Homo sapiens: one gene and its partners. The protein of the gene in region 3 interacts with the protein of the main gene of each other region in a pairwise test. Each region holds a gene or a part of one and is shown on either strand. Other genes may lie near its edges. The genes, in order: SH2D2A, SERPINB5 and LRRFIP1.

Evidence for each region.
Region 1: the proteins of LRRFIP1 (region 3) and SH2D2A interact in a two-hybrid assay, tested with the Homo sapiens proteins (one large-scale study listed by BioGRID and IntAct).
Region 2: the proteins of LRRFIP1 (region 3) and SERPINB5 interact in a two-hybrid assay, tested with the Homo sapiens proteins (one large-scale study listed by BioGRID).

Annotation. Positions count from the first base shown.
Region 1 is NC_000001.11:156,814,049-156,818,324, reverse strand, and holds the start of SH2D2A (SH2 domain-containing protein 2A), read left to right. Parts: upstream 1-1,476; 5' UTR 1,477-1,616; coding exon 1,617-1,650; intron 1,651-1,867; exon of another isoform or gene 1,868-2,212; coding exon of another isoform or gene 2,213-2,230; coding exon 2,231-2,319; intron 2,320-2,486; coding exon of another isoform or gene 2,487-2,495; exon of another isoform or gene 2,496-2,575; intron 2,576-3,103; coding exon 3,104-3,288; intron 3,289-4,000; coding exon of another isoform or gene 4,001-4,030; coding exon 4,031-4,120; intron 4,121-4,276. UniProt on the Homo sapiens protein: Could be a T-cell-specific adapter protein involved in the control of T-cell activation. May play a role in the CD4-p56-LCK-dependent signal transduction pathway. Could also play an important role in normal and pathological angiogenesis.
Region 2 is NC_000018.10:63,479,771-63,483,489, forward strand, and holds part of SERPINB5 (serpin B5), read left to right. Parts: intron 1-3,719. UniProt on the Homo sapiens protein: Tumor suppressor. It blocks the growth, invasion, and metastatic properties of mammary tumors.
Region 3 is NC_000002.12:237,630,536-237,634,254, reverse strand, and holds part of LRRFIP1 (leucine-rich repeat flightless-interacting protein 1), read right to left. Parts: intron 1-3,719.

The DNA of each region.
Region 1 (4,276 bases), on a different chromosome or scaffold from region 3:
AAGCAAAAAAACAGTACACAATTTTTTAAAAAACAGTAAGTCTTGGCAAGTCCATCTCCCCCATCTGACATCTTGAAACAAAGTTTTTTTTTTCCTCTCTGGGTTCTCAGTACCAAGAACAGTGCATAGCACATAGTCATGAACCTTTGGCCTAAATCACAGTGAAATTAGTGAAAGGAAGTCTACCTTCTAGTCCCAGCACTCACACCAACTTCTCAGACACTGAAAGACCCTGGCCAAGGCACTCCTCTGAGCTTCTGGTAAATGGGGATAATGTTCCTGTCCCCTTCTTAGTTTGTGAAGATAAATTCAGAGAGAAATGGGATTGGTCCTTTGGTATGGTGGGAAGTCTAAGCACATTGAAAGTTTAAGACATTAACACTGGCCAGTGCAGTGGCTCACGCCTGTAATCCCAACACTTTGGGAGGCCGAGGTGGGTGGATCACTTGACGCCAGGAGTTCAAGACCAGCCTGGCCAACACGGTGAAACCCTGTCTCTACTAAAAATACAAAAATTAGCCAGGCATGGTGGTACAAGCCTGTAATCCCAGCTACTCGGGAGGCTGAGGCACAAGAATCCCTTGAACCTGGGAGGCGGAAGTTGCAGTGAGCTGAGATTGTGCCACTGCAGTCCAGCCTGGGTGACAGAGCTAGACTCTGTCTCAAAAAAAAAAAAAAAAAAGATGTCAACACTGATGTTATTAATGACAACTGCTGATAGTGTTGATACTAATGATGACCTGCTTAGCTGGAGGAATTCTCTTTCCTTCCTCCAATATTGCCTGGTTTTGCCCTAACTCAGCTCCATTATCTGCTGAATGATGGAAGCCAGGCCCCCTCCTCTCTAACCCCTTGTCTTATAGATTTCTTTATTATTATTACTATTATTATTATTATTTTAAAAATAGTGATGGGCTCTCACTATGTTACCCAGGGCTGATCATGAACTCCTGGGCTCAAGCGATTCTCTCGCCTGAGCCTCCCAAAGTACTGGGATTACAAGCATGAGCCACCATGCCCAGACTCATAGATTTCACATGTCCTCAAAAAGTCCTTCCAGAAGTCTGACCCACATCCTTCCTGTTGCAGCCCTGCCCCCTCCCTTCCTCATGTCTCCTCAAAGCATGATCCATAAGCACCTTGTGTGGCTTATCCTTGAGGTTGACATCCCCATTCCCACTGCTCAGAACAGGCCAAGAGGCAGAGTGGGAGATTTTCCAGAGAGAAAGAAATAGAAGCCAAGAGAGATGAGAGAGAGAGAGAGAGAGAGAGAGAGAAAGGGAAGTTCTAGTTTGGGGTGAGGGGGCAGAGAAAGAATCTGGAGGGATGAAGGTCAGGCAGCAGTAAGGGCTTCCTAACACCTAAACACAGAGTGACACAGATACCCCCCACCGCTATACCACCGCTATCTACAGCTGCGTGGCTTCCGGGGGTGGGACAATCGTCTTAAGGCTTTCCATGACGTGAGTCCTCGCCAGAACTAAGGCTGTGGGTAAGGCGACATTTCCTGCCCCCGGGGCCAGGGTGAGAGGAGAGATGATGAGTTGCTGAGTGTGCACACCTTTCCGGAACACATACACACACCCTGCTCTGGGATCCCTTGTGAGGCTGCCCTCATGGAGTTCCCCCTGGCCCAGATATGTCCCCAAGGTAAGTGTGAAGTTGAAGGATATGGGTGGGAGGGGGCACAAAGACCCCCATCCCCCTGCCCTCCCTCCTGGGCTTGAGCTCCCACTTCAGGGATGAGGGGCCCCACCCTAAGCCAGAGCTGGCAAAGCTGATTGGCAGGGTGACCACAACCCTGCCTGGGGCTCCATGCCCACTCATCCCTGAGGATAAAGGTGACAGGGTTTGTTGAGGGCTTCTCAGAGAGGAGAGAGGAGGGAGCAGGAGGATGAAGGGAGAAGGAGGCAGAAGATCCTGGACCAGAAGAAGGGCCTGCCCTGAAGTGATCTGCCTCCCTGACCATCCGAAGGCCAGCCTGACTCCCAGCCTCTCCTTCTAGGCACCTGGTGTCCCTCACAACCTCCTCTGGCAGCATTAGCCCCCCATGCCGCCTTGGCTACTTAACCTCATGCCTGAGAAACTCCCCTGCTGCCCTTCTGCGTTTTTCCTGTCGTTAAGACTGTCCCAGCCCTCCAGATCCCCTGAGCCTGGGAGGAGGGGTGGGAGGCAGAGACAGACATAGTTCCTCTCTGAGAAACCCCGGCAGCCCTCTTTGTGCTCACAGGGAGTCACGAAGCCCCCATCCCAACCTTCAGCACCTTCCAGATCACAGACATGACCCGCAGGAGCTGCCAGAACCTGGGCTACACTGCGGTGAGTGGAAACCTGGGGCGGCAGCGTGGTGCAGCTCCCTCATCTCTCCCACCCTCCCATGGGGAAGGACTTGCAGATGGACAAAGGCCACTCCAAGAGAAGGCAGGAATGATCCGGGTCTGCCAACGGGCTGGGGCACAGAGAGAGAGAACGAAAATGAGGAGTACCTCCTTCATGCGCCGAGTTGCCCACTCACTCCCTTACTGCTCCTAGGCCCTCTGGAAGCTCAGGCTGAGTCCGCAGATGACCAGGGTGCAGTGCATTGAGTCCCAGAAGCAGGCATCTGCACTCTGTGTCAGTGACCATTTGCCCAGTGCATTCCACATTCCCGTCTCAGTCCTTCTCTCCTGCCCAGTCAATAATTTTCCCTGCGAACTAGGTCAGTCCCTCATATTATGAAGTAAGCCCTCCCTCATTCTGGCCTCTAGGGTGACTTCCTGCATCATGTTTCTTCATCCTCCAGGCCAGGGAATGACTCTGTCCATCTGGAAGGCTGTGCTGCCTTTCCCGCCCCTCCTAGAGCACAGTGTGACAGCTCACTGCTGCTGGATTAAAAGCCCTCAGGACCCAGAGGGCAAAGGAAGGAGAGTCTCTGGAAGCCAGAACAGCTGGAGCTGAAGAAGGGATTTAAGTTAGACTTTAGGAAGGACTTTCTGGGCAATTGTACCCTAAAATAGACAGGAGAGGCTGGGTATGAGGAAAAGAAGGTGGCAGGTGGATCAAAGTCAGGAGAAGGCCCACTCATCATGCTGCTTCCCCCTCCTTGAACTCTTCCCTGATCCAGGCATCTCCCCAGGCCCCGGAGGCTGCCTCCAACACAGGGAATGCTGAGAGGGCAGAGGAGGTGCCTGGAGAAGGAAGCCTGTTCCTGCAGGCCGAGACCCGGGCTTGGTTCCAGAAGACCCAGGCCCACTGGCTCCTGCAGCACGGGGCAGCCCCTGCCTGGTTCCATGGCTTCATCACCCGGAGGTGAGTCATGGAGGAGGAAATTGGCCCAGACAGGGGCAGGGCAAGTCCTGGGTCTGGGTCCTGCCACCTGCCAGGAATAGATGAAGGCTCCCACTTCTACCAGTCTGGAGTAGATGGAGGCGCCCACTCCAGGCTCCCACTCCCAGAGTTTTCCTAGCCTTTCACTGAGGCATCTCTCCAGGGGAGATCATTGGAGAGGCTCCAGTCCAGCCCTCTGTGTACCTCAGCTTCCCCTCTCTAGGCCCCATTATCCTCCTGTCCCTAAGGCCTCGAATGCTGGTATTTTCCACCTCTCTCTCCCTCCAGGCTTACTCCATCTTTATCTCCCAGCCCTCTCTTCTTCCACCCTTGCAGAATCTCCCTCCTCCATTTCTCAGCCTCATTTCTCCCTAACTCTTTGTTCACCTCCTCAGTTCAGCTTTGACTTCTGAAATCTGGAAGTCCAACTACTTTCCCATCCCTGTAGCTGCAGTAGCAGCCCCTGCAGGCTGCCCTTTCAGGATGAGGCCAGGGGAGGATGCGGGGGTCTCCTGAATGGGACCCCTGGCCCCTGTCCACGCCTAATCCCTGCAGCGGGAGAGCAGCGCCCACGTGCTCTCTCTCCCCATCTCCGCCCTAGCCTTTCTCTAGCCGCTCCAGCATGCTTGCTTGGGGGTAGGGGTTCCTCGTGAGAGCCGGGGAGACAGAGGCGAGGCTGGAAGTGTCAGAGCAGGGTTCGGCCCCCTCTCTCCGTCACCCACAGGGAGGCAGAGAGGCTGCTGGAGCCCAAGCCTCAGGGGTGCTACTTGGTGCGGTTCAGCGAGAGCGCGGTGACCTTCGTGCTGACTTACAGGTGAGGGGCGAGGCCCCGCGCCGGGCGACACAAGGCGGGGCTCGGGAGGGGCGGGGCTTGGGTCTGATCCCGTGAGGAGCCGGGCTCTTAGCTCATTCCCCGGGCTGCTGAAGGTGGGGATCACGCCTCTCGCTGGTGACCCTGGCCGAGGAGCGG
Region 2 (3,719 bases), on a different chromosome or scaffold from region 3:
ATGAAAGCAACATCATACCAAGAGTTTACAACATAAGTGGCAGAAAGGGAACAAGGGCTTCTTCAAGTAGGAAAATCATAGGGAAGAAGTTTTGTGTCGATTGAACAAACCATGCAGGATATGTTGATATCTTCAAGGGGAGACTTCAGGACATGCAGGATTTTTGGAACTCGAGAGACTTCTGAGAGAACAAATGCCAGCAAAGATGCAATTAACAAGAAAGCAGGTGATCAGGTGTGGCGGGGAAGTGCCAGGCTGGGAGCTAGAAGCAATGAATTCTAGGTCTGGTTTTGCCACTCTCACTCCCTGCGTGGGTGGCCTGGGAGACTCACTTCATCTTTGTCTGCCTCATTTTCCTCATCTGTAAAATGAAGAGGTGTGGCCAGCCTAGATCCTCTCCAAGATCTTGTCCCACTTTCAAGGTTTATAATTTGCACAGATTGCGAAAGCAAGGTACTTGGAAATAAGTTCTTAAAACTGCATTTGTATTACTGCTTGAACTTCCATCTATCTCACTTTCCTATGGTTAAAATAAAGTTCCTTTTAAACTTTTAAGTGCTGAAAGATGTAGCGTTTTCTACATTGCAACTATAAACGAAGTTCTCCTTGTTAAAATGGTTACAGGGTTTTCACAGAAATGGAAGAAGACCCTTGTGACAAGGCAACAGAATGAAAAAAAATTTGTAGCAATTTTAGCACTTTCAACAGAAGTCATTAGGCACATTAAATTTATTATATAGGAATTGCTAATCTCTACTCTGGTACTTGCAATTTTATAGCATTTGATCATGCAAAATGGTCTGTGTAGGAAGTTTGTATTTTTTCCAGGTCATGTATTGTTAACATTGCTGAGGTTTGTTTAAATGCTTTGATTGTCTTGCAACACAGTCATGTGGCAACTGTGGCCAAAGTCATCTTTTGAGCTACCTCAGACCAGATCAACTTTATAGTGTTTTTAGGTCACTTGGGACTAATCACAGAGCCACTGATCAGATTTACCGGGCAGTATTTGATTGATTACTTAGTGGGTGATTTTTTGCAACTACAACCTTTTCCATGTACAGACCTTTTCTGTTTCCTTTAGCCAGCATCAAACAATGCTCTTGCCACTGGGACCCCAGATACTAAGGGCTGTATGACCTTCCCAGACATGAAGGAGAATTTTCTGAGAAAGGAGCCAGTCAGCATAGGAACAGGAAGGCAGATCTCTTTGCGTTCATGCACTGAGGATTAGCATGCAAAGGAAGGGACTCACTCAAAGGGAAGGTCCGCCAATGGTGAGAGAAAGCCCCAGAGATGTTAGGATGTCAGATGTGCACTGATTTACATCTCCAACAGGGACCTGGATCTAAGCCTTGAATTGCAACACAGCATTAATTGTATTGTGTAATTAACTACACTAAAAGCCACAATGATCTTGTATCCACAATCATTTAGACTAAATGTATCTCAAAATGTTGTGACAAGTGAATGAATAATGCTTTAGTGAAATAAAATGGTAAAATGAACATCTCCTCACCATTTGATCCACTCCTAAGATCCATTTGTAGGTGTTTGCAGCCAAACTCCCTCAGCACATTAAGATCTTAAACACCATCTTTCTATACAAAGGAAATCACTAAAAGTATAGTTTGTTATTGACTATGCAAAATTATTCTAGTTTCTCTTGGAGGATAATAAATACGTGCTTGGAGGAGCTACTTGTGTTTGTTAAAGCAGTTTGTGTGTTTTCATATTATTATCAGTGCGATTAGCTCTCCACTGGTGGAAGTGTTAAGAAGCTTTCAGGGATCTGGGTTTAGGCTTCTCTATTTGGTGAAGAAATAACTCATTACTTCTTGTACATGTTGAGTTTTACTTGTAGATGAACTTGGCATTACTAATATTAAATGTGCTGTGGAAGGAAGCCAGGTTTCCTATTCTGAAAGTCTGTCCACAGATTCCCCAAACCTTTTGTGAAGAGTTTCTTTATGTTTTCCCAGTGGCAGGCACACTGGGTGAAACACTCAACAGGCTTTCATTTTTGCCTCAGTATACCCTGCTGACCTCAGTATACACCTAATGCCAGTCACCTTTCCCTGGGGTGTGATGTCACCTGTAGGCCCTTGCCCCTGCCCTGAGGGGAGAAGGAGTAAGGTTGTGGGCTTTAAAGAAAAGTGAGAGGCCCACCTGACTTCAGGGGGCCTCGTGGTATATTTGCAATGGGAACTGGCCTGAGCGCATGGCTGTACTTATCAGGGACATATGGAGAAGGAGGAAGCCCATGGAAATGACCAGTGAGCATGAACAGAGTCAATAAAACATTATTTTTGGATAATGAACTCGCTTTTTCAGACTCTGAGATATAATCGATTTAAGTCCATCCTACACACAAGCCATATATCCCATAAAAGGGAGAATTCTGAAGAAATGTTTAAAGACCAGGAGTCCTCTCCTCCATCTTATTCTCGTCTTTGCATTCTGAATTTGTGTCCAGGTATAAGGTGCAAATTGCAATCCTATTCATCATGCCTTTGACTCTTGACACACGTTTGGGTACTGGCCAAAGGGAGTCCTCTATCTTAAGCAGTGGAGCTTACTTTCTAATGCCAGGGTGCATGTCCTACCTGAAGACCTTCAATGTCACATTCGGCCCTTGTGTCTGTGTGTGTGCGCCTGAGGCTTTGGGGGAACACTTCGAGTTTAATCCCTGTACTGCTCACCCCGGGGTAGTAATATCAATTCATTTCCCTTAGAAACATGCTGTCCTGGCTTAGGCAGAACCTCAGGAGTTCATGTAGTTCAGCTCTGCTCCCAGAAAGGGAAGCCCTGACTGCCTGAATTTACCTAATTGTCTTTGGAGTCGATCAGTAACTACCAGACTAAATAGGTAGGTAGACCTTTATTAGAACAGTGAAGCTTTTTAAATCTGAGGACCCTGTTACACTCTTAAAAATTACCGAGGACCCCAAAGAACTGTTTCTTTAAAAAAAATGTAGATTATATCTATCACTATTTACCAAACTAGAAATGAAAACCAGACACATTTTGAAATGTTCATTTACTAATTTATTAAAATAATATAATAATTAAATACTAATATGAATAATATATATATTAAAAAACATTTTCTAAAGTGAAAAAATGTAATGAGAAGAGTGATATTGTTTTTCATTTTTGCAAATCTCCTTAATATTTGGCTTAATAGAAGGGATGTCATATAGCCTCTGGAAAACTCCGCTGTCTATTAGAGATTGAGAATGATAATGTCTTAGTATTATCATGAGAATAGTTTTAACCTCATGGACCTCCTGAAAGGGTGTTAGGGACTGCCAGGAGTCAAGACACAACACTTTGGAAGTTGCTGTGTTAAAATTAAAGAGCTCTGAGATGTGACAAGATGCCTAGTTGCTGCTATATCCACTTTACCAGGCTACATATTTTGAAACTGTTCCCTCTTTTCTTTAACTCCCATATTACTTATTATACCACTCACATGTCTTGGGCAGCTCTGTATTCTAGTTATTTGTCTGCATATCTGCCCAAAGAGACTATGAGCTTAGAGAAGGAGGAGGTCCACTGATCCTTGTAACACTCTGGGTAGTGTCTTACACACAGATGCGTATTATAAACGCAAACAATAACCGCTGCTGTTTATTAAGTATTGTTATGTGCTGGGTGTCCTGCAAAGGCATTAGTTACTTTAAGGGTTTTCTAGCACTTCTCACAAAGCACCACAA
Region 3 (3,719 bases):
AAACTAATGTGTAATACATATGTATGTTATTTATAAACAAGGAGATCATTACCAGATCATTGAGGGTCTTGTAGCTTGTTTAAGGACTTGGGTTTTACGGAGTGATACAAGACACCCTTGGAAAGTTTTTATCAGAGAAGTGGCATGATCTGACATATTTTAAAAGGACTGCCCAGCCTACTGTGTGGGGAACGGCCTGAGAATATGGGTAAAAACATATATTACTCTGATGAAATAAAAATCAATTTTTTAAAGATGAAAGGATGGAAAAAGAAGATGAGAGATACAGTAAGGCAGAGACAGATATGGGACTCTCTCTCCTGAAATGTCACCCCTGGTGGTTCACAGGTCAGTGGGGGACGACATGTGCCAGGGATAGGAAGAAGGTGGCTTGCCTGCAGGACATAGCCTGAATGGGGTCTTGGAGGGAGCTGAGGGGCTGATCCAGGAAGCAGCCTGGGCCATGAACTGGCAGCCCCTAATTAATAGGTGGCCTCAGCCATGTCCCATGGTGTCTCTGAGTCTGTTTTCTCTCTGTCAAACAGAGAGACTCGGAACTCTTTTCACAGGATTTAAACAAACTATGGGAGTAAAGCTTCCAGAGTACCTGGCACACCTTGGGTCTTAGAAGCAACCTCCATTCGCCCCTCTCTCCTTTCCCGTCTCACACTCACTGGGGACGGGCAGGGCTCACGGGGGACAGGCAGGGCTAGAAGCCAGGTCATGTTCTCCACACACACATCCCAACCCTGAGTACCAGGCCAACGAGTGGCTCAAGAGTCACCCAGAAAAGGAAGAAGGGAGACAGCTGGCCCTCTGACAGAAATAGCTGTGGGGTGGGGCCCAGGGCCGTTGGGGACCAGCAGGCCTGTCCACAGCTGAGTTTTCTGTGGACTCAGAAACCCAGAAGCATCTTTTGGGAATCGCACAAACAGCCCAAGGTCACAGGCACATTGTTCACGCCCTCCAACAGCTCAGACTGTTGGTAAAAATCCGTCTGGAACACCAGTCTTGTCACATTCCTAAAACCTTGTAGACGATCTGCCAAGATGGGTGTTTGGCTTAGGAGAATCAGCTGCAGAACAGCCCTCAGTGACTCCACTGCGGCTGGGTTCCAACTGGAGGCAGGATGTTGTTCAGGCTGGACAGTCCTGTGTCCTGCCGGGCACTGAACGCCCCTCACCTCTCCCAACTCCTGTGGAACAAAGGGGCAGGGCCCAGCCCCAATGGCAAACCAGTGTCCAGCAGCACTCAGTTGGTGTGCAATCTGCTGGCCAGCCTCAGAAAAGCAAATTCATAGAGAAAAAAGTCATGAAATTCACTTTCAAATCAAGTGAAATAGGCCTAGGGACAAGTCTGACATCTTGGTTGCGTGCAGGTGAATTCTGGCCCCAGGGTCACCTCACCAGAGGGCAAGGGACTGCATTGGGGACCCAGATTTGCATCTTTGCAGCTGGGCTCAGTCCTGGACTCTCCACCCCAGAGGAGCCAGGTCAGGTTAGTGCTGGAGAGAGGTAGAGCGAAGTTTCCACACTGAACCCCACTTCTGGGCTGTTCTGGAAAAGAACACGTGCACCCCATCCCCAGCTTGGTTCTCCAACAGCCTTGAGGAGAAGAGAGACAGGCTCCCTCCGCACAGGTTGATATAGGAGGGCTATTTGGGAAGGACAGGGAGAAAAGATGAATGAAAGGGGGACTTAGGATGAAAAGACCCGATATTTACGAACTACCTGAAACAAGGGGCATGGCTTTATGTTGGGTTCCAGAAGCAGAGCCCATGGCAGGACTGGATGTGAGCCCTGTCCCAGCAGGGGCATGAGGGGGGCAGGCCAGTCAGGGAAGGGCTGGGGAGGGAGGTGGTCTCGGCAGGAGTTGGCCTCAGCCTGGCCCGCAGAGAGCTCCGGAGCAGGAAACGTACCACAGAATTGGTTGCATCTTGAAACAAGCCTGGGGGACATTTTGTGACCTCACAAAATGGTTACTTGATGGCTGCAGGCTGCCTTGGGGGCAATGCAACCCCTTCTCCACAACTGGAGTCCTTGGGGGCTGTGTGACCCCTTCTCCACAACTGGACTCCTTGGGGGCAGTGTGACCCCTTCTCCACAACTGGACTCCTTGGGGGCAGTGCGACCCCTTCTCCGCAACTGGACTCCTGTGTGGCCGTGGCTCAAGTGAAAGGCGGTGGCTGTGAGGCCTGAACCAACAGCACCCGCAGGCCCACGAGTCAACTTGGGGCCGGTGAAGCAGCCGGGTGGGGCAGCAGTGCCCCTGCCATGGATCAGGGCCCGAGGCCGCAGGCCACAGAGGGGCCAGCTTGGAGAGGAGGCTGCAGAAACAGTTATGGGGGGAGGGCCTCCGTCCTGCTGGGTGAGGAAGGGGTACCTATGGCACCACCAGGGGATAATAAGCTCACCGCACTGTCTCAAGGCCCCACGGTGAGTTCCTAATGCAGCCTGCGCAAATGACTGTTCCTGTTGGGAAAAACATTCTTCATTTGAGAGCAATACTTTGAATTGCATGGTGAGACCAGTATCGCTTTACTCAGCTGCAGAGTGCTGAATGAGAAGTTTGGGATGCTACCAAAATGCACCAGTAGAATGTGAAATGCGGTAGGAGAGGAAAATCTATCTGCGTTGGAAACACCCCTCCCCAGAAGTGGGAGGCGCAGCTCATGCCTTTGGTGCTAATGAGCTTCTGCAAGTGCGTACTAAACCTTTCTCCTGATAACATCCCGCCTGAATTCCACTGCAACAAGAGAGTGAGAAATAATTGACTTGCGATAATACAGCATTTGCAAATAACTCCCTTTACTATACACGCTTGCCTAGAGTTTAAACCATCACATGGAAGCAGGACACCGGCTGCAGAAGCAGAAATGCACCCTCCAAAGGCTGCCCCCACCACGAGTCCTGCTTCTACCCAGAAGAGTGCAAAGCCCTGCCTGCACAGGGCAGCCTAGCTCTTCCCCTCGCTCCAGCGAACTGGAACCCACGTCCCTGCCAGGTGACTCAGGCTTCCCAATGACCTCAGCCCAGAATTTTCCACTTACTCTCCAGAAGGCATGTTCTTGGGTGCCAGGCCCAAGTGGCAGCCCACTCCCTCCCACTTCCTTGAAGCCTCCCCAGTTTCCATTCAGGCCCCCACCTTCCCAAGTGTTTCAGGGAGGCCGGCTCTCCCCAGTCCCAGGATGAGTCTGACAGGTCACAGGGTAGACCCACCCCCCTTTGCCACAGGCACTGAGCCCCTAAGTCCATGGTCCTTGTCAAAGAGCTTGGTGCAGGAGTGGCCAGACAGACTCATGAAAGTTTACCAGGGAGATACTGCTAGCTCTCTGGAGAGAGCCACCAGAAGAGACGGTGTGTGGGCTCCACAGTGGCAGCCCGGGAAAGCCAAGGCCAGCTGGCCTCCATGAAGCAAGTCAGCCTGAGGATGAGGCCACCCACAGAGGATGGCCCAGCCCAACCAGCTGCGCAGGTGCTGTGGGAAAAAGAGGCCGGAGCCACTGGTGAGGCTGGCGGGGAATCCTGCCCTGCCTCCGGGCTTGCTGTGCTCCAGCCAATATACTTCCCCTTGTCAATGTCAGTCCAGTCAGGGTTTCTGTCCCAGCAGCCAAAGCATCTTGACTGGTACATACAGCCTTCAAGAACTCAAAATGCCACTTCCTCCAGGAAGCCACTTCTGAGACCACTGGCCGGCTGTGATTCTCTCTCATGTCCAAA